Linked DNA regions of Homo sapiens. The protein of the gene in region 3 interacts with the protein of the main gene of each other region in a biochemical or structural test. Each region holds a gene or a part of one and is shown on either strand. Other genes may lie near its edges. The genes, in order: PDZRN4, DLG5, ADGRA3, PARD3B, DLG2, FRMPD2 and CARD11.

Evidence for each region.
Region 1: the proteins of ADGRA3 (region 3) and PDZRN4 interact in a test that uses a peptide from one of them, tested with the Homo sapiens proteins (one large-scale study listed by IntAct).
Region 2: the proteins of ADGRA3 (region 3) and DLG5 interact in a test that uses a peptide from one of them, tested with the Homo sapiens proteins (one large-scale study listed by IntAct).
Region 4: the proteins of ADGRA3 (region 3) and PARD3B interact in a test that uses a peptide from one of them, tested with the Homo sapiens proteins (one large-scale study listed by IntAct).
Region 5: the proteins of ADGRA3 (region 3) and DLG2 interact in a test that uses a peptide from one of them, tested with the Homo sapiens proteins (one large-scale study listed by IntAct).
Region 6: the proteins of ADGRA3 (region 3) and FRMPD2 interact in a test that uses a peptide from one of them, tested with the Homo sapiens proteins (one large-scale study listed by IntAct).
Region 7: the proteins of ADGRA3 (region 3) and CARD11 interact in a test that uses a peptide from one of them, tested with the Homo sapiens proteins (one large-scale study listed by IntAct).

What each region holds. Positions count from the first base shown.
Region 1 is NC_000012.12:41,509,820-41,513,319, reverse strand, and holds part of PDZRN4 (PDZ domain-containing RING finger protein 4), read right to left. Parts: coding exon 3,407-3,500; intron 1-3,406.
Region 2 is NC_000010.11:77,804,756-77,808,255, reverse strand, and holds part of DLG5 (disks large homolog 5), read left to right. Parts: intron 1-311; coding exon 312-460; intron 461-1,327; coding exon 1,328-1,498; intron 1,499-2,084; coding exon of another isoform or gene 2,085-2,160; exon of another isoform or gene 2,161-2,357; intron 2,358-2,394; coding exon 2,395-2,591; intron 2,592-3,500. UniProt on the Homo sapiens protein: Acts as a regulator of the Hippo signaling pathway.
Region 3 is NC_000004.12:22,408,067-22,411,566, forward strand, and holds part of ADGRA3 (adhesion G protein-coupled receptor A3 precursor), read right to left. Parts: intron 1-3,500. UniProt on the Homo sapiens protein: Orphan receptor that may have a role in planar cell polarity pathway.
Region 4 is NC_000002.12:205,612,475-205,615,974, reverse strand, and holds part of PARD3B (partitioning defective 3 homolog B), read right to left. Parts: intron 520-3,500; coding exon 162-519; 3' UTR 1-161. UniProt on the Homo sapiens protein: Putative adapter protein involved in asymmetrical cell division and cell polarization processes. May play a role in the formation of epithelial tight junctions.
Region 5 is NC_000011.10:83,454,673-83,458,008, forward strand, and holds the end of DLG2 (disks large homolog 2), read right to left. Parts: 3' UTR 501-3,336; downstream 1-500. UniProt on the Homo sapiens protein: Required for perception of chronic pain through NMDA receptor signaling. Regulates surface expression of NMDA receptors in dorsal horn neurons of the spinal cord.
Region 6 is NC_000010.11:48,236,697-48,240,196, forward strand, and holds part of FRMPD2 (FERM and PDZ domain-containing protein 2), read right to left. Parts: intron 2,997-3,500; coding exon 2,909-2,996; intron 1,428-2,908; coding exon 1,295-1,427; intron 1-1,294.
Region 7 is NC_000007.14:3,037,368-3,040,867, forward strand, and holds part of CARD11 (caspase recruitment domain-containing protein 11), read right to left. Parts: intron 1-3,500. UniProt on the Homo sapiens protein: Adapter protein that plays a key role in adaptive immune response by transducing the activation of NF-kappa-B downstream of T-cell receptor (TCR) and B-cell receptor (BCR) engagement.

The DNA.
Region 1 (3,500 bases), on a different chromosome or scaffold from region 3:
GGTGTCATTAAATTTTCATAGAGGTTCCTAACACACCAGAGTCACCATAACATGGACACTGAGTATAATATCTCCAAAGAAGCATTTGCTTGTCTGCCGTGGCTCTGAAGGGACCTGTTACAGTCCATCAGTGAAATAATATGTGTGTTAAAAGTCCCTAAATATGTATTTACAAGATAGTCAGATCTGTTTTGGTCTATTGGGTTAATAATCCATGCACTAAGTCTGTATATAAGTACTCACGAGATACACAGATCAGCTTTGGTTCACTGAGTTAATAGTAAGTAGGTCTTTAAAAAGGCACCTAAATAGCCGCATAGTTTGTATTTTAGCAAGTTCAGAAATGCAGTCTATATACTAGAAGCTATTTCTTTTAAAGTGTGGATGCATTGCTCTTGCTCTGGTGGATGCCAAAAGGTGTGCTTCACTCTAACCTGTAATATTTTGCCATTAAAATGTCAGAAGAAAATTGCCATAGCACAAACTATATTGAAGCTCTGAGGCACAGCCCTCCAGGCTGGGGTGGATGCTGTCCTAGATTATGTCATACATACTCCACCCGCTATCACCGCCCAGGTCCAATACCCCACTCCCTCTCAGCTGACTTTGCTTCCTTCCTGTCAGTCTCAGACCAGCAGCTGGAGTAATCCTGTTATGGCTTTCCTATGTTCCAGCAACTTCCCATCTCAGAGTCAAAGCAACTTCCTATATCATGGTCAAAGCCAAAGGCTCCACAAAACACACCCTCCTTTCTCTGAATTCACCCCTTCCACTCTCTCACTGGTCTCTTTGCTACTCCTTGTACACCCCAGCATGCTTCTGCTTCAGGTCCTTTGCCCCTGCCCTTCCTTCTTTCTGAAAATCTCCTTTCACATGGCTAGATCTCTTATATTCTTTAGTTCTCTTATGAGAGAAGTCTTGCATTACCACTCTGTATAAGACAGCAACATCCTGTCCAACACCACTCTTATTATTTTCCATTAGTACTTCTCACCATTGAAAAGAATATGTCTTTACTTTTATGTTTATTGTTGACCTCCCTCTCCTAGAAGCTCCTTCCACTGGGGCAGGAGCTTCCTAATCCCATGCATAGATAACTGCCTGGTACATTTTAAGTCCTCATTAAATATTTATGGTACAAATGAATGAAAGCAGATGAAAAAGGAGTCTTCTTTCTACTTCCTTGATTGCCTGGTTGTGCTCATGTTTAGGTTGAAGAGGAATGCATATCTCTTTCTGAGCTGAAGTCTTCTTGGCCATTAAACCTCACTTTCCTGTGATATTCTCTCAGTGGCACAAAACTGGTACTTCCTTAAGGTGCTCATCCATCCCGCTCCTAGAGCTATAGGGTTATAAGGAAGCTCCTAGAGGAGCTAGGGTCATCTCAGCTGGTCACAGAAACACCAGATCAGTCTGCTTCTAGGTGTAACAGTAAAAGTGCAACACATAGACAGAATTAGCATTTCTAAATCTCTTCACTGAATGAGCCTAATGGTGTCCACCACAGGCTCCAATGATGGCAGTGGACTGACTAGATTTTGCAGTTTGATGCAGCCACAAGGGATGGCATGTGCCACTCTATGTGTGTGTCACATAATGATAACAGACTGAGGAGTACTGGGCAGAACCATTATTCTCTCTTGAATCTGGTAAATTTCTCTGGAGGTATTCTCCCATGCCTCCACTCCCACCTTTAACCATGCATGTTGTTCTCAAATGCATCCTTTCTAATGATTGAAAACTGTCATAGCAACTCCTTCCTTATTTGAATTTCACAGGAACATTCTTTATTTCAATCACTCAGAAAGGAGCCTTTGGCAACGGAATCACAGCTGACAGCAAATTAATGACTATGATGCTGTGATTAGTTGAGATTACAGGCTACAGAGAGCTTGTCTGAGAATTCACCACTGACATCATCCTGATGCTGGCTTCTGCTGGGGATTAATATTGGTCAAAAAAGAGGTTGTGGTTCAGTTACAGTAAGCTCCATAGAAATGTAAGGAAATCTGTCTGTATTGTAATATTTCAATGACATGCTGATTCATTTAAAGGGCTTTTACTGTTAACTTGCTTAGCCTAAACAATCTTCCCCTATGCCCTCCCCGAGCACACTGACTTATTTTAATAAAGCTTTAAGGCATCCAAATAAAAAGTTGAAGTGATCTACATAATTCCAGTCCCCAAACTGAAAGTATTCATTAACCAAAAGGAAAACATAAGAATCTTGAATTATTTGGATAAGTCATTCAATTTTATAATTTATTTTACATGAATAGACAAAGCAATGGATATTGTAATGCATGTCAGTGCTTGAGTAGATTTAGAAAATAAAACTTTTCAATCAACTTAATAAAGAGGAGGTAAAAATTTAACATGAACAACACAAGAATGACAAAAACCATCTACTCAGTTACCAGTTGTCATTTCACATCCTTCTAAATTTTGGCTGCAAAGAAATAATGATTTCTGTAATCCCCAGGAATGACTTTTGTGGGGAGAAGATTTCAAACAAACGTCCATTTGCTTTAGATGAGCTTCCTTATTTGATTTCAGATCCTCCTAAGGGAAGAGATTTCAGGATTTCCTGGTTGTAAAGTGGAAGAGAACACTTTGCTGAACTTGTATGACATCACCTGAAGCATTAAAAGGGCAGGTGACCATGGGTTCTCTGCCTGTTTACCAAAGCTTCTTTACTTCCTCAATCTATTTTATTTTTAAATGTCAGAGTAGTCTGAAACCTTTCAAAGATATTCAGGCTGCAGAAGCAGAGGAAATATTAGGATACATTCTTTAACTTTTGTGAGAGCTTTTAAATAATCAATGGATGGACTTTTCGAATTGTTATATATCACAGTACAGATATTCTGACATTAAACCATGTGAAGAATAAATATAGTTTAACAACAAAGGGCATGAGGCCATCTCTATTTCTAGGAAGTCTGTGAAATGGCTCTTTAGAGTACAGACCAGAGGCACAAAGAGAGTATTGCATTTCCAAAGAATACAATATAATAAAATTTAGTTTATCAATGAAAATTAGAATATTATACAACAAATGAAAATAGTAAACACAATCTTTGTTTTAAATATATTTTTCAAACTCCACTTGGAAATCCACATATATTATAGAACAGATTTTAAAAATGTAGCTGTTGCAATATTATTTATTAAAAAGCAACAAAATGAGAGCAAATTATATTTAAGCTTATACTATAAAAATATTTTCCAATATACTTAAAACACGAGAGCCACATAGCTAAAGCAAATAGTATTTGAAAGATCTTACACTGGATATGTAATAGACAAGACATTTCTCACTGTAATAAATTAATTTCTTTGTTATACAAAACCCCTCAACCGTAACTTCATGAAGAAATGTGAAGTGGTATGAAAATGACCTTACCTCATATTCAAAGTCTTCTGTTCTGTCTGCATCAGCAGGCAAGCTGGAAATATACTCATTGTCCTCATAAAATTCATGCTCCATTGGATGTAGA
Region 2 (3,500 bases), on a different chromosome or scaffold from region 3:
ATCAGCAAGAGGAAGGTCCCTATTCTGAAAAGCCCAGACTTGCCAGTCACCAGAACAGGGTTTTTCCTGGATAAGCTGTCAAGGGCAGGGCAGCCACTTGGCAGAGGACCTGGTGTCCAGGGAGCATGCACAGGACCTGGAGACTGGGGAGACCATGAAGACTCAGTCCTTCCTGCAGAGGGGAGGTAGCCAGAGTCTCAGTTAAGGAGGGATGTTGAATTTCTGCCGTATGGTCAGCACTGGCCCCTCTCGGGTGCCCAAGCTGCCCCCTGGCTTCTGCCTTCTGATGCATCCACCCCCATCCCTGGCAGTATGGCAGCCTGGACGTGCGGAACAAGACAGTGGAGGAAGTCTATGTGGAGATGCTGAAGCCCAGGGATGGCGTCCGCCTGAAGGTGCAGTACCGCCCTGAGGAGTTCACGAAGGCCAAGGGCCTGCCTGGTGACAGCTTCTACATCAGGTACCAGTGGCTGGGGAATCGGTGGGAGATTTGGAACCAGAGGAGAGGCTTTCACTGGAGACTCTTTTCCTGGTGAATGGCTCTCTGTTTCTTGCCCCCCAAGGCTGGGGCCATGATCATCATTCCTTGACACTCAATCTGCACGCTTATTTATGTTGAGATGATTGTGACTTAGAACAACCCTTTAGGGCTTAAAGAACCAGCTGGGCCCCCTCTTTAGGGCTTAAGACCTAGAGAATTTGGAGGCAGTCAAGCCCCGTTTTCCTGTGTGCTGTGCTCCTCTTTTTCTGGTGTCCCCCAAGCCAGGTTTGCAGATCCCTCTGCAGTGTGTGTGGACTTCCAGGCATCTTCAGTGCCCTTACTACTGTATGAAATGCTGTGGGCATTTAGGGATGGCAGCAGGCTTTCTAGGAGGAGCTCAGAGCTTTCTTCACATTTCCTAAGATCCAAGATCACAGAAAGCATGAGAACACTGATGCGGTACAACTCCCTGTCTCTAGGGTAGAAGATGACATATTTCCATCCTAGAGAGATTCCAGTCTGTAGGAACCAGGGGCCGGGCCTGGGCTTCGAGGAGGGAGGCAACTGGGAAAGGCCACCTGGAAAGGGAAGTTATGGCCTCAGATCTTGGTGAGTTCTTTGATGGGGATGCGCCCTCAGTGTTAGGGGAGCAAAGGCAGTCTTTGCCCCTTTATGTAAAACACAGGGCTCCCCACTTTGAGAATCACCACCCTCGGCGATTCCTGATCAAGTTTGGAGACAGCCCAAAGCAGAATGGCAGCCTTAGGGGCCTGGCCACAGAAGGCACCTGGTTCGTCCTTGGTGGCCAGAGCCGCCTGATCGTGTTCCTTCTGTGCTGTGGTCCAGGGCCCTGTACGACCGGCTGGCAGATGTGGAGCAAGAGTTGAGCTTTAAGAAGGACGACATCCTCTACGTGGATGACACCTTACCCCAGGGCACGTTCGGGTCCTGGATGGCTTGGCAGCTGGACGAGAATGCCCAGAAGATCCAGCGCGGGCAGATTCCCAGCAAATATGTGTAAGTGTTCTCCGGGCCTGGGGTGGGGTGGGGCAGGGGTCGCCGAGGGCCACCAGCCATGGAGCTGTCCCATGGGAGGGGGCTGGGGCCAGGGCTGCTGGAGGAGGGATTCTGCTTCTTATCTTAGCTTCTGCTCTCTACATTTTGCCAAAAGTGCTGGTCTAAAAAGCTGCTCCTAGTGTGAGTCAGTGCTGTATAGAGCACAGTGATGGGTCAGAAGGCATAACGTGTTTTAGAAAAATGGATTTATGGAGATACTCGTGCCTTGCCGCTCCCTCAAAGTGTACCATTCAGTGGTTTTCAACATATTGATAGGTGTGTGCAGCCGCCACTACAGTTAATTTTAGAGCATTTCCATCACCTCAAACAAACCCCAGACCCATTAGCTGTCAGCCCCTTATCCCACTGTCCTCCCACCCAGCCCTCAGCCCTAGGCAGCCACTACTTTACTTTTGATACCCATGGGTCTCCCTGTCTGGACTTCTGTGTGGTTGGGATTGCATAGTGTGGCCTTTCATCTGGCTCCTGTCACTGAGCATGTTTTCGAGGCAGCCTGCATCCCTGCATCATTTCCCTTCTATGGCAGGAAGCGTAACTCGTCATGTCACCAATTGAAGGCTGTCCTAGCAGTTCCTTTTGACACCGAGCTGAATATGCTGTAGTAGAAAAAATCGCCTGCTCTGAGAGCTTGCCCTGGTGCTGGTGTTTGTGTCACCCCCGCAGCATGTACCGAGGGTTCCCAGGGGCGTGGGAGGAGATGTAGCCTTGAGACCTGCCAAGGAGTGTGGGGGGAGCCCAGTGTCTGGCCCACCTTTGCTTTTCTCACCAGGAAGGGCAGGAAGGGCAGGGCAGCAGGGTCTCGATGGCCCTGCCCAGCATTGTCCCCTGTGCCACAGGATGGACCAAGAATTCTCCAGGAGGCTCAGCATGTCTGAAGTCAAAGATGACAATAGCGCCACAAAGACGCTGTCAGCGGCTGCACGCCGGTCCTTTTTTCGGAGGAAACACAAGCACAAACGCAGCGGGTCCAAGGACGGGAAAGACCTGCTCGCCTTGGATGCCTTTTCCAGTGACTCCATTCCACTCTTTGAAGGCAAGTGGCTGAGCTCATTTTCCAGTGGGCTCTCCAGATGGGGCTTGCTGTGGATCCAGGAGCTCCACAACAGGGACTTAAACAAAAGAGAGTCTTACTTTGCTTTTGTGCGCAAGTCTGAAGGTGTGTGTTCGGCTTGGTCGGGGGGTGCTGCCATCTTCAGAGCCACATCTATGGGGTGTGGCTTCCATCCTCCCAGTCACCGCCTGTCAATGCAGCTGCAGCCATCATGTCCCTGTTTCAGGCAGCAGGAGGAAGGAAGGAGTGGTAAGGCAGAAGTGTGCCTCAGCTGAGCGTGCCTCTTTCAGCAGCTATCTGGAAGCCCTAACCTGTGACTTCAACTTGCATCTCATTGTCCACTTGCATGTGCAAGAGAGGTCAAAAAGGCATGTTTTGGCCAGGCACAGTGGCTCACACGTTTAATCCCAGCACTTTGGGAGGCTGAGGTGGGTGGATCACCTGAGGTCAGGAGTTCAAGACCAGCCTGGCCAACATGGTGAAACCCTGTCTCTATTAAAAATACAAAAATTAGCCAGGTGTGGTGGCATGCACCTGTAATCCCAGCTACTTGGGAGGCTGAGGCAGGAGAATCCCTTGAACCCAGGAGGCGGAGGTGCAGTGAGCCAAGATCACGCCACCGTACTCCAGCCTGGGTGACAGAGCAAGATCCTGTCTCAAAAAATAATTAAAAAGAAAAGGCATGTTTTAGCTGGGTGCATTGCTGGCCTCAGTAAGAGGTTCAGTTACTGAGGAAGAATGGAGGGATAGCTATTGGGTAGGCAAGAAGCAATCTCTGCTGAGTGCCTTGCTTGCCATTTGTTTTTAGGTTCTTACAGGCTGCTTGGTAGTGACCAAGAGCTGTCGGTTTCTGCAGAACTTCGGCATTTCTGGCCTCAGTCCTGTGTTCAT
Region 3 (3,500 bases):
TCTATGTTGCTTTTTCCCCACTAAGGAACAAAGAATACAAATTTAAAGATTTTATTCTCCCTACCTCACATCATCAACAAAAAATCAATTCCAGTCAAATTACAGAACTAAATATAAAAGGTAAAACATATTAAAGCTTCTGAAGAGAACAAAAAAGAAGATCTTCATAATCTTGGGGTAGAAAAATTTCTTAAACAGCATTAACTAAAACAACAACAACAACCAAGAAATTGTACTTCAGAAAATTTAAGAAACTCTGTTCATAAAAAGACAATATTGAGGAAAAAAAAAGGCATGAACTGGGAGAAGATGTATGCAACACATAAATCCAACAGGGAGCTCATATTCAGTACCCATATTAAGAAGTCCTATAAATAATTAAGAAAATGAAAGACAACAAAATTAAAAATAGGCAAGACTTGAGCAGGAACGTCAGGAAAAGGGGATATCCAAACTGCCAATAAAAAGCTAAAGAAGTGCTCAACATCAATAGTCACCAGAGAAATGCAAATTAAAACTAGAATGATACATCACAACACTACCACCAGAAGACTAAAACTGAAGATTGACAATTCCAAGCATGGTCAAAATGTAGAGCACCTGGAACTCTCATTACTGTTGAGACTGTAAACCAACATAACCACTTTGGTCAACTGCATGGCTTTAGCTACTTAAAGCTAAACACATGGAAAGCCTACAATCTAGCAATTTCACTCCTGAGTGTACATGTCCATCATAAAACATATACATGAGTACTCACAGCAGCTTTTTCTTGACACCCAAAACCTAGAAACAGAAATGGCTATCAATGATAAAATGAACAAACTTTGGCATATTGATACAATGGACTGCTACACTGCAATGGAAAAGAATAAACTGCTGCTAAATGCAAAAATGAAGATAAATTCCAACCATGTAATGACAGGAAAGAACCTGACACAAGTGTACATACTACACAACTAAAGTCTAAAAACAGGCCAAACCTATCTATAGTGAGAGACATCAAAAGGGTGGTTCCTGGAGATGGTGGCAGGAACTGACTAGAGAGAAACACAGGAGCACTGTCCAGCACTCTACTACAAATCTTGTTCTTATACATTCTTTTGTAAAAATATAACCAATATTTGTGCACTTTGCTCAATACCTCAATTTAAACCAGTTGGTCCCTTTGATTATCAATTCCACTTTGGAGAATTTGTCTCACAGATGCTCAATTAAATGTGCAAAATGACACTGTACAAACCACTAGAAACAAACACAATAGAGAAATATCTAAATAAATTATGGTAGAAACATAATATTCAGAGATAAGAAAGAATGAGGAAACTCGTATATTGAGAGGATTTCAGAAAGGAGACTTAGCAGAGGGATTATTAACACAGATCCCAAAATGAGACTGTGAATTCAAATCCCAATACCAGCACTAGCTTTGTGAGCATGGCATTTAACCTCTCTCTGCCTCAGTTTCCACATCTGTACAGTGGGGGTGATGACAGTACTATTTCTCATGAGGCTGTTATAAGAGCTGAGTAACTGAATGTATATAAAGACATCAGAGGAGTGGCTGACACATAAGTGCTTAATAAAGATTGGCCACCACTACCACCATCACCATCCTCTTCTTTAAGATACATTATCACCATCATAGTTAAGAAATGTTGCTCTACAGAAAAAAGCACGGTTTAGAACAGTGTGTGTAGTATGCAACCTTTGTGCAAAAATGCAAAAAAATAGGAACATATACTCATTTTTGTTTCCATAAACACGAGGGTCTCCTCAACAATACGCGAGAAACAAACAGTAGTTACTTATCAGTGTGATACGAGAGATAGGTAGGACTTCCAGCTTTCACTGTATGTTAATGTGTAGAAATAAATAAAACATTACATCCATGTGAGTATAGTACTTATTTTAAAATTATTTAAACAAAAACATCACTAGCATTTATGTTCAATTATAGAGTAAATGATATCAAAGTTGCTTTGAATACCATTTTAATCTATAAAATGACATATTAAGATGGTATTCAGCATGTTTTATATAAACAAATGTAAAAGAATCACTAGAAAAAGAAAATTAATGAATGCTCTCTAGTTTCATATTTTTAGGTGAACACAACAAAAGAGGAATCAATGTATATAAATTAGCTTATCTTCACCACTAGTGATTAAAGTATTAAGCACTACATAGTTTGAACCTAATCATAACCCTACTTTCTATTCAGTTTTCTTTCTTTGTTTTTTCCTACAGACACCAGCTCCTGTGAATCTTCCTGCCCCACCTGGCTATTCCAGATCATATCATTCAAGCAAACCTAATTTCTGCTTAATTTTTTTTTCTGGCTCCCAATGAGACCTTAGTAAATAACTGGTATAGCAGGATGTATACTCAGATTTATGAACAAGTATATTCTTTATGTCGCATTTTTTAAAAATTCAAAACTCTTAAAATCAGATAAAGGAAAGTTTTATGGACTATATCCCAAGATAGGAATTTAGACTTACTATATAAAAGGATATATTAAGATGGTATTCAAGAGACATAGGATTTTATCAATTTTTAAAAGCTTAATATAAGGAAAAAAGACACTGCTTTCTAATTTGCTTTCTAATTTTTTAAAAACAATTTTTTCAATCCTAAACATAACTTTACCTAAAAGTGGGTATAATTTCATTAACTTTTTCTTTATGTTTAATTAGCAACTAACTCCCATGCAGTAACTTTAATTTTGTCAACAATTTCAAATACATTTCTCTTTGCTGCCTCTAGATGGCACAATTACATTTAAGAAAAGGAAAAAGTCTTTGAAAATAAATAGAAAAAAAATCTTAGTACTACAGTATTTTAACTTTAAAGAATTGTGTATTACATTTTTTTAAGAGATTAAAAGTCTGAAAGATAAAAGAATAGCTTATTCCTTCCAGAAAAGGATTATACTAATTTAATAGTTTTGAAGAACAGCTAGGAAGTTCACAAATAGATGCTTTAAACTGGTATTAGACTAAATAAAAATAAAAGTTTCACATGGTGCAATATCACAGCGAAGGCTTATAAAATGCATTTTTGTGTATGTTTTGTGTTTCATTTATTTTGCTCAATTTTTTCTTGTTAACTTATAAATTTCTGACAATGTTGAATATTATTTCTCATCAGTACATCACAGTTTATTTTATATTCAAAACTGAATGAGAAAACACTTTCAAAATGGAAGAGAAAATGCCACATACTTTAACGCTTCATGCTTTAATTTAAAAGGTGGCAGTGGCTCATGCCTATAATCCCAGCACTTTCCGAGCTTGAGGCAGGCAGATCACTTGAGTCCAGGAGATCAAGACCAGCCTGGGAAACATGGCAAAACCCAGTCTCTACTAAAAATACAAAAATTAGCCGGGTTTGGTGGTGCCTGCCTGTAATCCCAGCTACTCAGGAGGATGAGGTAAGAGAATCACCTGAGCCTGGGAGGTAGAGGCTGCAGTGAGGCGAGATTGCACCACTGCACT
Region 4 (3,500 bases), on a different chromosome or scaffold from region 3:
TTTTCTCTCTGATTAGCAGTCATGCGTTACAATGTCAGTGAGAAAAAGCTTATCAGTAACATGGAGAATTCCTAACACCAAGGAGGTCTTCAGGTTTAGAAAGGGCAAAGGTAGAGTAGACACCTTCCTTTCTGGACCGGGCTGGCCTCGGTGGCACTCAGCTATACGGCTGCAGTCATGGGGTTCTTCTGCCGGGAATCCTGGGTTCGGTAAGGGTACTGGTCTGGGCTGCCCCCACGGGGCCCTGGTCTGCCTGTTTCCTGATAGGCTGGCATTCTTTGGTGCTGGGGAGGGGAAGGCGGAACGTCTTGTCGAAAGGGTCCTTTGTGCTGGGGAGCTGGCGGGGGTGGGTAGTGCTGAGGATACCGGAGATCTGCCACCCTGAGCTCTGTGGGGCGGGGATAGCTCCCTTTGGGAGGGTGCATAGGATGAGCCCCTGGATAATAGGGAAGCTCCCTTTCCTTGTAGAGCCCCCGAGGTGCTGCTGGCAGATAGTCTACAGGATCTGCGGGTCCTCCCCTGGAAAGAGAAGAAGAGACACATGTTAGCAGCTCCTAAGCTGGCCGTCCGGCTGGAGAACATGTTCCTCAGCCTCCTGTGCAGTTTGGTGTGGCCACCGCATAGGTCTGGCCAATGGGATGGGAGCAGAAGTGATACGTGCCCTTAAAAAGAAGAGAAGGGAACTTCTTCCCTTCTCTCCTTCCTGTTGGCCAGCAGAAAAACCATCTTAGGCCACAAGGTGAAAACCACGTGCTATGGGAGGCAGAGCAACAAGAAGGTGAGAGCCTGGGTCCCCGTTGCCATGGAGCCACCATGTCAATCAGGATTGCTTCCATTCACATTGGTGCATGAGAGGAAAATACACTTCAATCTGGTTTATACCCTTTTCTGTTGGCCTTTATTATAGTAACCAAACTAGTTTCCTAAACAAGGCAGTGAGTTTGCCTCTCTTAAGGATGGGGTCATTAGTTCCCTCCCCTTTTCTACCACCATATCCAGGACAGGCTGGGCTGAAGTCTGTCCTAGGCATGGTGATAGAAATGTTCAGGTTATTTGGAGTCATAAAGTTTCCATGGACTGCACTCGCTTTTCTAAATCTGTGAGGTGCTCTTTTAAACGGGCTGTCATCTTGGTCTAACTCTGGTTGGCTGCTGTTACATCTTGGTGTGGATTCATATGTCCCTCCCCTCCCTAAATGCTCTACAGTCCTTAGAAAAAGTCCCAAGCCAGAGCACCTAGAGCTCTTTTTTTTTTTTTAATTTTTTTTTTGAGAGGGAGTCTCATTCTGTCACCCAGGCTGGAGTGCAATGGTGCGATCTCAGCTCACTGCAACCTCTGCCTCCTGGGTTCAAGCGATTCTCCCACCTCAGCCTACCGAGTAGATGGAACTACAGGTGCCCACCACTACACCTGACTAAGTTTTGTATTTTTTTTTGTAGAGATGGGTTTCATTATGTTGGCCAGGCTGGTCTCAATCTCCTGACCTTAGGTGATCTGCCTGGCTCGGCATCCCAAAGTACTGAGATTACAGGCGTGAGCCACTGCACCCAGCCCACACCTAAAGCTTTGATATAAAGTAATCAACTCTACCACAAAGCCAGGAAGTAGCACCAGTCCAGTAGCAGAATAGGGAAATGCCAAACCAGCTGTAAGTTGTACCTTGTAATGGGTAAGGCACACAGAAACATCCAGGGTAAGAATAGACACTAACAGAAAGTGGCCCTGTCTGGATCTCTCACTAAAGAAAACAAGCATCTTCTGATCCGTTTGCCATAACAGAAGCAGTGTGCCTCTAAACAATGTGCAGATGACTGCATTTTATCTAGCCTGGGGTTAAACAGATGAGTTCTGTTTGCAGCTCTTAAAATCTCATAAACCTTCTGTGCACACATTCACCACCACCACCATCCCCAGATCCTTCCCATTTTTTTGCCACTCCCCCTTTTATAATTTTTAAAAAAGAAAAACAACAACAATAATTAAGGGAAAGCTCCCCAATGTCAGACACACTGCTAGGACACTTGAAAGAAATGACAGGGCTGTGAGAATACAGTGTCTGTGGTTAATCAAGCACTGTCAATGAGGGTCAGAATCACCCTGTAATCTGTGGAGGTGGATGTTAAAACAGCTCTGTAAGTTGCTCAAATCAATGAAGATTTGACAAGCTCCCAGCTCGGTGCATGTAGAAAGCAGCTTGTGAACAAATCTATAAGGATGAACAATAGAATTCTCTCTACTTTTTTGTCTTAATTTGGCTATGTATAATAATGAAAGATCCTTGAGCTTGGGGTAATTTAGTTAGAGTTTTCAGATAAAAAATTAAATTGTTTGTGTACAAGTTATTATAGCATCAGCTGCTATTATTCAGTGCAGTTTGCTTTGCTGTATTTTAAATCGCCCATGACAAATGGAGCACAAATGGATAATCTGTCACTCTAGCCATGGGAAATAAAGGCTCTGGATTTCACCTTTCCCTTTCTTTAGAATTTCATTTTTGATTTAGAAAACTTCCAGCCTTCGGTATATCTTTTATCATAAGAATTCTTTAAGTCTCTCTCCTCCACCTCACCATGCTCATTTTCATTTCCTTTTGGTTCATGTTGGAGATATCCGATACACTCAAAAAATTTTTCTTAACCTGTACTTTCTCTCAAAATCCACTGAAGATATTTCTCTGCATGAAGTGAAACATGTGGTTTTTCTGCACTCATTTTAAGCCCTTAGGATAAATCACTGACATTTGCAACACACAAACATTATTTGCCTTCAAATGAACATACAACCAGCCCTCCCTCCGGACTCTCTTAGCATGAATGCTTCCTGTTTAAAATGGAAAGAGAGAAAGGAAGAATTCCAGGCCTTGGACTTTTAGGGTCCTGTTCTCTCCCTGGAGATTTCTCTCTCTTAAAACAGAGCATTATAAAAGACAGGCACGCCTTGTTTTTTTAAATTTTTGGAGAGAGAATCCAGATCAAGTGGTGACAGGGCAGAAGCCACCCTGAGAGGTTGTGACAGTACAGTCGGCGAGCACATGGGGGGACAGTCGCTATCTCTTCTCCCACACCTTGCTCCTCCCAGGCAGCCAGTGCTCACAGCTCACAGTGAGGGGGAGGCTTCCCGTGGGCAGATAGGGCAGACCTCAAGATACTTTTGTGGTCCCATATTGCTTCCTCTGAGGGGAGGTTTTATGTCTGGGAGTTTGCTTGTATGTGGCAGAAAGCAAGAGAGGTAGCTGTTCTTTGTCAAGAAATGAAGTCATGGAAATTGTCTTTTTCTGTGGAACTCATCATAACAGTTAGCATTTTTAATTTTTCAGAGAGAAGAAAAACAATGAGTTGGCCTACTAAAACACTGTTTAAGGTTCAAAGAGTGCTAGAAGAATTTTTCTTTATTTTGGGGGATGGTGTGTAGCTGTTGTTTATAACAACATTTTGTTCATAACAGAATTTCCTACAGACTTTTGTCAGAACAACTTCTAAGTTCTTCTGACTATTATGTGT
Region 5 (3,336 bases), on a different chromosome or scaffold from region 3:
ATTTTTCTGTATCCTTAATATCTTCTGGAATCCCACAGTTTGACACTGGGAAATTGATTTTTCCCCTCACATAGCTGTGAGCATCTTTAAAAATCTATCTTTTAATACATTGTTCACTTTTGGAAAAATCCCGATTAAAAGCAGGCAAGATGGTAACCAAATATTTAAGAATATGCAAAAACAGCACTTTCACTTCCTCTCAGCAGTGCCAATACTTCTCAGGGCATACCCACCCTAATTGCATTTTAGCTCTGGAATCAGAGACAAAATTGATAAAAATAGACATGAGTGATTCTATTCCTTATGAAATAAGACAAATTATGCTTTGGGAGAAAATCATTTGCCATAAAGTATAAAATGTTTTAATATTTATATCTTATAATAAAACCATGACATGTTTATAAACACTCTATCAGGCATTTTTACAATGGGGCCACCCACCGCTGACAACTAGAAACGCAATAAATATGCACAGACACACTGAGTATGAAATATACATCTTGATTTTATAATCGTGTGTGCTTTATTTTTTACACAAATGGAATGGAAGTGTTGAATATTTACACTTAACAGGAGTGTAAGCTGTGCAGTGTCTCTGTAAACTCCAGCCTAGGCAAGGAGTATTCCCACCTCCCTCCCATCCTGTGCTACAGCTCGGTGGAGAAACATCCTGTCAGAGAGAAGCACAAAACTGTCATATTGAAAGGATCTAACGGGTACAGCCTGGTGCACTCAGAAGTTAAGAAACACTTAGGAAACACAAACTCAAAAAGGAGAGAAGAAAAGTCTGCCATCCCATTGGGAGTCAACCTTGCCACTTGGTTGTCTGTCCTCATGAGTTGCTAGGGAGATACTATACTCTTTAGATGATCTTTGTCTAAATTGTCCGCCTGTCTTAGCTTTGTCCTCAGCTGTTACAAGAAACTGCACAGCTGTACAAGAAATGATTTCCAAAGCACAGGTTTCAGTGAGGAAGGATATTTACAGACTTGAGTGTGTGTGTGTGTTTCCAACCACAGTCATTCATACTCAATGTAACGTGTGTACATGGTATACATACCATATATACCATACATACACAGAAGTAAAATGTATATCACAGAATTCTGTAGGGAGTCCCCTGGCAAGTCAGCTGTCACAGGAGGTACTCCACATGCTTCAAGGGAATTGATCTTTTTCCCTCTAGGAGTAACAAATTAATGTGATCAACTTAGGAATTAGCCTGAGTCCTTGGCTTAAATATATTTGTAGGAATTTAGGCAGGACCAAGACAGGAAAGAAGAGATTTCATTTCACCAGCAAGTCCATTCAGTCTCACCAGAGCAATCACCAGCTGAAAAGCAGAGGGGGCTTCACATAAAAATGGGAAAAAGAAAGCTTATGAATGGGAAAAAAATGTCTCTCTCCAAACCAAGGTGATGGCATGGCTTCAATGAGGAGGAAGAGGTTTGCTATCAGAATAATTGGGGCCAGAGTCTGCCTTTATTGAAAGAAAATGTCCTCAGAGCCATGCGGTAGTGCTGGGAGTGGGCTCGCTTAGGAGCAGTGTTCAGGCAGAGGCACTCAGGCGCCGGCAGGGCCCACAGCACATGCATCATCGCTGCCAGGGCAACGGTGCAGGCTGGCTCCGGGAGGCGGGCTGGAGCAGGCTCCAGGTCAGGGCCTCACGCTCAGCTTTACTTTCTGGGCTGAGTAGGTGAAACGGCGACCTAAAGTATTTGTGTCATTAGTCCAGTGCATGGACTTGCTGTCTGAATCAGCCATGAGCCCTTTAGAGGACAGAAAAATCAATACAGGGATGTACGGGAGAAGATGATCAGAGATTTGAGGAGAGGAGAAAGGACAGAAGAGGAATAAGAAGGGCAGAGAAACAGAGACTAAAGGAGAGGTGGACAAAAAGAGAAAGGGAATAGAGAAGGATTATAGGAGAAAGTCAACAACTCAGAGATGGTGGGAAGGAGGAATAGGAAAAGGAGAGGAACAAAAAAAAAAAGAGATGGAATTAGTCGGAAGTAGAAGGAGGAGGAGAGTAAGGAAAAGAATGAGAAAAAAAGTAGAGTCTCGAGCCAGAGGTTGGAGAGTTCTTTCCTGGCTCGGAGTCCTGAAGGGCCGGCAGTAGGATCTAAGACAGCGCACAGAGGCACCCGAGTGCAGCTTTGTGAAGACAGGCTCTTTAAGCAGACAGAGCCAACCCAAGAATTTGGGGCTGGGAAAAAAGGCCTGCAAATAAATAGCCAAGAAATCCCGCAAAAGGCCTGCAAATAAATGGCCGACAATTCTGTGGGAGGAGAGCAAAAAACAAATGCCTCTGCACTTAGCTGACAAATGGAATTTTGATTTTGGTAAAGCTGAGACCCCCGTGGTGCTACACATTGTACCAGAGCATGAAAAATAGCACCAGTTACACGATCTGGCACTTTTCTGAAAGGGCCCAGCATGTGTGAAGGTGACATTGCACCCCCAGCAAGCCTTCAGGTTGGAGAGAGCTCTGGACAAAGTTTGCAGTGTTAGCACCAGTCTGGCCCCAGGCTCCGAGTGCATTTGCACCAGATGTAATCTGGGTAACTTTCATGCCATTTCCATACAAGTCATCAGATTTGCTGCAAAATACACCAGTTCATTGGAGCCATAGAGACATCAACATTGGGAAGTGCAAGACAACACAACAAATGGAGGTGTAAATTCTATTGGAAAAGACCCTCTCACCAATTTGCTTGGTGATTCTTCAAGCAAATATATATGTATCTATATATTTATATAAATCTACATAAAAAAATCAGTGCAAATGCCAATTCTAATCTGAAAGCATCTACACTAGGAAAATAAATAGTTATATTACTACAAAACCAAGGGTTGGTGGTTCAATTTGATTGTACTTAGCCACAGCAACACTAGTAAATGGAAAGCACATCACACGACCCGCGAAAACATCTACTCATTAATGACAGTCTTTTAAATAAATGGTTGCATGCTCAGTTGAGAAACCAAAGAAGTTATCGTGGTGGCCTAAAAATAGAGCTGGGATCAGGAATGGCATTCTGGTGTCAGAAAACTTCTGGGAGCAATATTGATGAAAGTAGGCCTTGACCTGAAACTGGCGAATTGCAGACATGGACATATCTTTAACATTTTGAGCAATCTAAGGAAGTCTCTGGAAATTTAACTTTCATGAGAGGGAGAATGCATTGCTAGCCCTTCCATTGGCAAAGGAAGCCTCAGGACTATGGGAAGATGCATAATTTTGCATTTCTGTTTTGTTTTGGTGACTGTAGCCAGGCAGACAATGATGTTTAGCGTAAGATGAACAATGCCTGTTTTTGGAAAGAGACTCTCATT
Region 6 (3,500 bases), on a different chromosome or scaffold from region 3:
TGGGCTGAGGCCCCAGCTGAATGGTACATCTTGGAGCAGAAGTCTTACAGGTGGGTATAGGGTATCAGCAACATTCTGGCTCTTAAGTTGGGTACAGGGGTGTTCGGGGTGAATTATAAGTTTCATAATTTACACAGAACTCCATCTTTTGTATGTATCAAAAGTATAAAATGTATAATATAAATATAAATGCAATAAAAATACTTGAAAAAACAAAAATACTTTTAGATTTAGATGAGCTGAAATGTTTTCTAGCTCTAGATGTTGAATCAATAGCTTAGTGGGCACCTCTTGTTCTCAGTGTGTTTGTATTACACTTGACCCAGAAAACACTGCAATACCCATCACTAGCTAGACCCAGCTATCCCCCTGTGGGGTGCATATTCTCAACCCATTTTACAGGTGAGGAAGTTGAGGCTCCTCACCTTTAAAAAAAAAAAAAAAAGCTTAAGAAGCTCACCTGAGTCATATAACCAGCAAGAGATAGGGTTGGGTAGGGCTTCTATAGTGCCCCCAAGGGTACCTAGCAGGACTCTTGTCCCAAGAGGCCAAAATTCCAGCCCAGAAGTGACTTGTGTCCTGCAAGAGTTCCCAATAGAAGTATCTCTAGTGAGTGATCAGGAAGAAAAGCCAAAGGAGGTGGACAAAGCCTCTCAGAAGCCCTCTTCACGCCCTCCACCAAGTTCATGGAGGCCAGAGAAGGGCCAAGGAGGACAGTGCGGGCCAGGCCAGCGTATGGGAACCATAGGCCAAACAGGAAGAGGGACATCCTGAGGCTATTTGGAGCTCAGCTCAGTCAAGGGACCTTAACTAACTTTGACAGACAGACAGGCACATTCCGCCTAACCCTATTACCCTCTTAGGGTTAGCCAGCTGGAAGGATAACTCTCTCCTCCCTATAGAAGCCCTCCCTGCGGCCCTGGATCTATGCTCCCACCTTTCACCTGTGCAGAAGGCCCCTTCCAAACACATTCTGCCTTGTCAGTTCTCGAATCATGTAGCACGCTCTGCCACCACCCTGCGCACCGGTGGCTTCCTCTAGGGTGGGACCCAGCATCTTTAACCCTACATCTTATACAGCGTCCCCCATAGAGCCTTCCCCAGTGAGGCTACTCAGTGAATGCCTATGCCCTAAGTTGCAAATTTCAGGTTTATGTTAGTCCAATCCTATAAACCTCAGCCCAGGGAAGTTGTCCCCTAGAAGACCCTGCCCATTTTCAGCCACCGTGCCAGCCACCCACAGCTCCCTGCTCAAGCCTCCTTGAGGAGTGTCCTTCAGCCTTATTTTGCTTACCTTGCTCCTTCTTTGCAGAAAACCCCTCTGAGAAGGAGTTGTTGGCCATGAGCTGTCTGCTGCCGAGTGCACAGATCCAGAGCTGAGCCTCCGGCCCGCCTGCTGGTCCTGGGGATCTGCTCCTGGAAGAGCGCTGGCCAGGGGTTGAGAAGGGGTGAAGCACTTAGCAATGGCAAGGGCTTCCATGGCATGAAAGACCACCCGCACAGGGGCTCAGTTGGGCAGGGTGCACCCACTGATGCATGTCACCTTCTCCCCCACCTATGGGGGAGTTATATCCATTTTTCAAGTGGGGGAAGCTGAGGCCTGGAGAAGCCAGGCTGCACAGCCACTGGGGTGGGGTGGGGTTGGAGGTACAAGGCACAGTCGACTTCTCCACCCCATGGCTTTACCTCTCTGTTTGTGGTGCCAGGACCCCAGGTCTAGAGCAACCACCCAGCAGGTCATGGGACTGCAGCAGTTCTGGCTTCTTTAGAATTTGATATGTTGTTCAAAATATTTTGACAATAAAATATATTGTTTAAGGAATCAGGGGGTAAAAATTGTTTTCATTGGGAAAATAAAGTTTTAAATGGCAGGAAAAAGTATTGCAAGATAAACTCTACGATATCCAATCAGGGCGTCAGCTGTGGATTTGACATCAACTATGACAAGACACTGTTACAGCCCTCAACAGGTCACCATGTGAATAAATAAATCACCCAAACTTCAAAATAAACACCGTTCCAGGTCCAGGAAGATATGAGCCCATCTAGGTTTTGATCTGATTCAAGCATCCTAAGTTAGACAATTGCAAAAATGTCCACAGTTCTTCTCCCTGATCTGCACCCTTTGCAATCCGACTTTGCAGCCTCCTGCCATCAAGAGATGGAGTCTATTTCTTACTCCTTGAAATGGGGCTGGCCTTTAGGCCTGATATGGCCAACAGAATGAAGTGGAAATGATGGAAGACCAGTTCTGAAGGCTTTATGCACCTTGCCGTCCTCTCTCCTCTCTCTCCTCTTTCTCTCTGTCTCTCTGTCTCTCTCTCTCTCTCTCAGTTCCTCTCTGTCAGTTCTGCCATTGTCACGAGAACAATCCTAGGCTGACCTGCTGGTGGAGGAGAGCCAGAGCTTCCCAGACAATGGCCATTCACCCCGCAGGAGAAGCTGGATAGCCGAGCCGAAGACAGTCAAAAAGGCAGGAAGGCTTTCAGCAGAGTCTAGAAGACCTCCCAGCTGAGCACAGCCTAAATGACCAACTCACAGAATCATGAGCTAAATTCATAATTGTTGCTTTTAGCCACTGTGTTTTGTGGTTGCTTGTTATGCAGCATGGTATGGCAATGGATAATGGCAACAATATTGAGGCATGTTGTTGCTCCGCCACTCGGCCTGAGTATGGTTCCCAGAGGAAACAGGATGCCCTGACAGCACAGCTGCCACCAGGCCCCTCATTATCTTGGCTTCGGATCTGCTTAAATGTGGCTTCTTCATCTGTTAATGGAATAGCATTGGCATTTTCTGGAGGAGCAAGAGGCTTCTTACTAATAATCAGTAAAGAAATAAGGTACCATAGCCCCCACACCTATGTCTCACATCAAGTTCACAGCACCCTTTAGGCCTTGCTGCTTACCGGTTAACAAGGAGGCTGCAGTGACTGTGTGTCAAGGTGCTCCAATGGGGCTCTGGTGAGCTCTGGGTCTCCGTGCTTCTTTCTGAAACTAATCAAGCAGCATGGTAGAGGGTATGGGCAGAAGCCAAGATCACGGCTTTCTTAAATCAGGCATCTCAGAGCATGAATGGCATCATGACTTACTAGCTGTGTGACCTTGGTGAAATTCCTTAGCCTCTCTGAATCTGTTTCCTCATGTAGAAAACAGAAATGACAGTTACAGAGGGTTGGAGGGAGGGTTACAAGGGAAGATAAAGCCTAATGGCAAAGTGCACTTTGTTTTAGAGACAACAAACAATAACATTAATTTTTTTAAAAAAAGCTCAGATTTAGTTGAAAAGTAGAGAACAGTAGATTTGAAGATTATTCCAAAAACCACTCTTTTAACACACCCAGAACAATAACTGAAAAAAAAATCAAGTTTTTCTTTTCTTGTTGTTTGTTTCAATTTGGATTTTCTCAACTTGGACAGTTAGAACTCATTTTTAAAGTTTTCATTTGATATAAATAACTGTGTTGTGTCCCCAAATAAGACTTTCCTGGGAACACAGGT
Region 7 (3,500 bases), on a different chromosome or scaffold from region 3:
CAAGAGTTCTTAGTAAATTAAGGAAATAGCTCTTTGCCACATATACTCTGTTTTGCATTTAGCTCATCTCTCTCTGTTCTCCCTCCTGGCCTCTGAATAAGCAAGTCAGAAGTAAAACTTAAAAGCAGAAGCCTGCAGAACCCCTTGACACATTTGGTGCGTTTGGAAACACTTTGGTCTATGCTAATCTAGGGGTGGTATCATTATTATTATTAATTTGTGATAGAGTCTTGCTCTGTTGGCCAGGCTGGAGTACAGTGGCACAATCGTGGCTCACTGCAACCTCTACTTCCCGGGTTCAAGTGATTCTCCCGCCTCAGCTTCCCGAGTAGCTGGGATTACAGGTGCTCACCCCCATGCCTGGCTAATTTTTGTACTTTTAGTAGAGACGGGGTTTTGCCATATCTCAAACTCCTGACCTCAGATGATCTGCCCGCCTCGGCCTCCCAAAGTGCTGGGATTACAGGTGTGACCCACTGTGCCCAGCTAGGGGTGGTAATTTTATACCCATTTTACACGTGCAGCAATTGAGGCTCAAAATCATCATGTGACTTTGTTGGGGTCACCGAGATTGCAGGCAGTGGAGCCGGAATGGGCACCTTGTCTGTCAGGCTCTAAGTCTGTAGATCTCTCCAGAAAGCAGGTTTGCCTTTTTTTTTTTTTTTTTTTGAGACAGGTTCTTACTCTGCTGCCCATGCTGGAGTGCAGTGGTGCAATCACGGCTCCCTGCAGCCTCAACTTCCTGGGCTCTAGCAATCCTCCCACCTCAGCCTCCTGAGTAGCTGGAACCACAGGCGCATACCTCCATACCTGCCTCATTTTTAAATTTTTTGTAGAGATGGGGTCTCGCTATGTTGCCCAGGCTGGTCTCGAACTCCTGAGTTCAAGCAATCCTCCGCTTTGGCCTCCCAAAGTGCTGGAGTGCTGGGATTATAGGCATGAGCCCTCGTGCCTGGCTTTTTATTTTTTTTTAATCTTGCCTCTTAAGGAATGAGGCCAGTCCCAGGGGACGGCAGAAATCATAACCAGCATTGTCCTGGCAGGTGTTGCCTTTGATACCACCATGACCGAGGACATGGCATGGGGCAGCCCCCATTCTGCTGCTGTGATACTTGGGTATAAAGACAGCAAATTCCTCAGTTGCAGAGGGGCAGGAAGGAAGATGACATGCTAGACACAGAAACCACACAAAGGAGGATGGAGCCCTGTTTGTGAGCATGGATACTACACATGCCCCTCTCTGGCTCTCACACTTGCAAGAATAATGCCCACTAAGGAATGGCCCCGGCTGGGCCAGGAGGAACCCAGCACTTTGGAGGAATGACTGTGCTTGGAGTAGCAGGACAGGGGAAGAAGAAGTGACAGCCACACAGATGGGACTGGAAGGACTTTTATCACCCTCTGGCTCTCGGCCACCAACACCTATTACAGAAATGTGACAGCAACCATTATAATCTCTGAGCCCTTGAACAAATCACAACCCAAAAGGTTACCCTCCCGAAAATAATCACCCCATTAAAACCACTGACCCAGAGAGCGGCAGTCCCTCAAGGAGAGAACGCAGACAAGGCATGGGGCGTGTTCTTTGTATGGAGCGTGCAGTGCCCTGGCCGTGATTTTCTTATGTGGCCTGCCACAGGAAGAGGCTGGCATCTGGAATCTGTGCCTTCTAATTTTTATTCTTTTCTTTTTTTTTTTTTTTTTGAGTCGGAGTCTCGCTCTGTTGCCCAGGCTGGAGTGCAGTGGCACGATCTCGGCTCGCTGCAAACTCCGCCTCCGTGGTTCAAGCAATACCCCTGCCTCAGCCTCCCGAATAGCTAGGATTACAGGCGCCCGCCACCACCCTGGCATAATTTTTTTTGTATTTTTAGTAGAGACAGAGTTTCACCATGTTGGCCAGGCTGGTCTCGAACTCCTGAACACAGGCAATCTGCCCACCTCGGCCTCCCAAAGTGCTGGGATTACAGGCGTGAGCCACCACGCCCAGCTGCCTTCTAATTTTTCTTTGGCAGAAGAGCATGTTTAAGGGGCTCCCTCGAAGGTTCTCTTTTCCTTCTCTTTTTGTTTCTGTATTTCAATCAATCGATCAAAATATTTCCTTTCTTTTTTTCGTTTTTTTTTGTTTGAGACAGGGTCTCGCTCTGTCGCCCAAGTTGGAGCGCAGTGGTGTGATCTCGGCTCACTGCAACTTCTGCATCCCAGACCCAAATGATCCTCCTGCCTCAGCTTCCCAAGTAAGGAGAGACCCCTATGCCTGGCTAATTTTTTAGTATTTTTTTTGTAGAGACATGGTCTCATCACGTTGCCCAGGCTGGCTGGTCTGGAACTCCTGGACTCAAGCGATCCTCCTCCTTGGCCTCCCGAAGTGCTGGGATTACAGCCATGAGCCACCGTGCCCAGCCAATCAAGCTATTTTCTAGACTGATTGGGTACTGCCACCACCAAGAGTGAGGGTTTTTCTACAGGGTAGATTGACGGAGCATCAGCTCGGTCTGTGATTTCCTTGGGCCTCATAATTCCCCCGTAAGATTGAGATTGCAGATAAGGAATCTGAGGTTGCACCAGAAAAAAGTAACGAGGTCCATCCAGCTGGTGTTTGCGGGGATACCGGCACTGCAGCCCTGGGTCTGGACTCCAGGGTCCAACCTCTGATCTGCTCCAGACCTTAGTCATCACGGCAAAGGTAGTCCTAGCTCATATGCCGCATTTTCTCATTTTATGCTTGGTGTAACTGACAATACTGAAAATAACCAGTATTGATATCCTGATTTCATTAGAGAAATGACTCTCAGAGAGCTTAGGTGACGGGAAGCCTGTCTAAGGTCACACGGCTAGCACAGATCAGTAGTCATGCCTCAAACCCATGCCTTCATGGGCTCCAACCCAAAAGACGGAATGCTGCTGGAGGCGCTGCCTGCAAAGCAGATAGTGCAGGGCCTGGCCAAGAGGGAATGGAAAGTGTTTTTTTGTTTTTTTTGTTTTTTTTTTTTTTTTCCTTTTTTGGAGACAGAGTCTCACTCTGTTGCCCAGGCTAGAGTGCAGTGGGGCAATCTCAGCTCACTGCAACCTCTGCCTCCTAGGTTCATGCGATTCTCCTGCCTCAGCATCCCGAGTAGCTGGAATTACAGGCGCCTGCCCAATTTTTGTATTTTTAGTAGAGATGGGGTTTCACCATGGTGCCCAGGCTGGTCTCAGACTCCTGACCTCAAGCGATCCGCCTGCCTCCGCCTCCCAAAGTGCTGGGATTACAGGTGTGAGCCACCGTGCCTAAAGGCGGTTTTTAAAATGGATTCGAAGAGGCTCCATTTTTCAGCATTTGACACGCCTTTTCATCATCATCATCTGAAAATCGGGACCCTATTTGGCCTTTCATGCCCGACATGCTATGAGGAGCTACAATCACAAGTGCGTCTTCAACTCCACGGCCTCTGCCAGCCACCACCAAGCCACAGTCACACAGCCCCTCAGTCCCAGGAAGCAAGCCTTTTATCGGAAGGGTC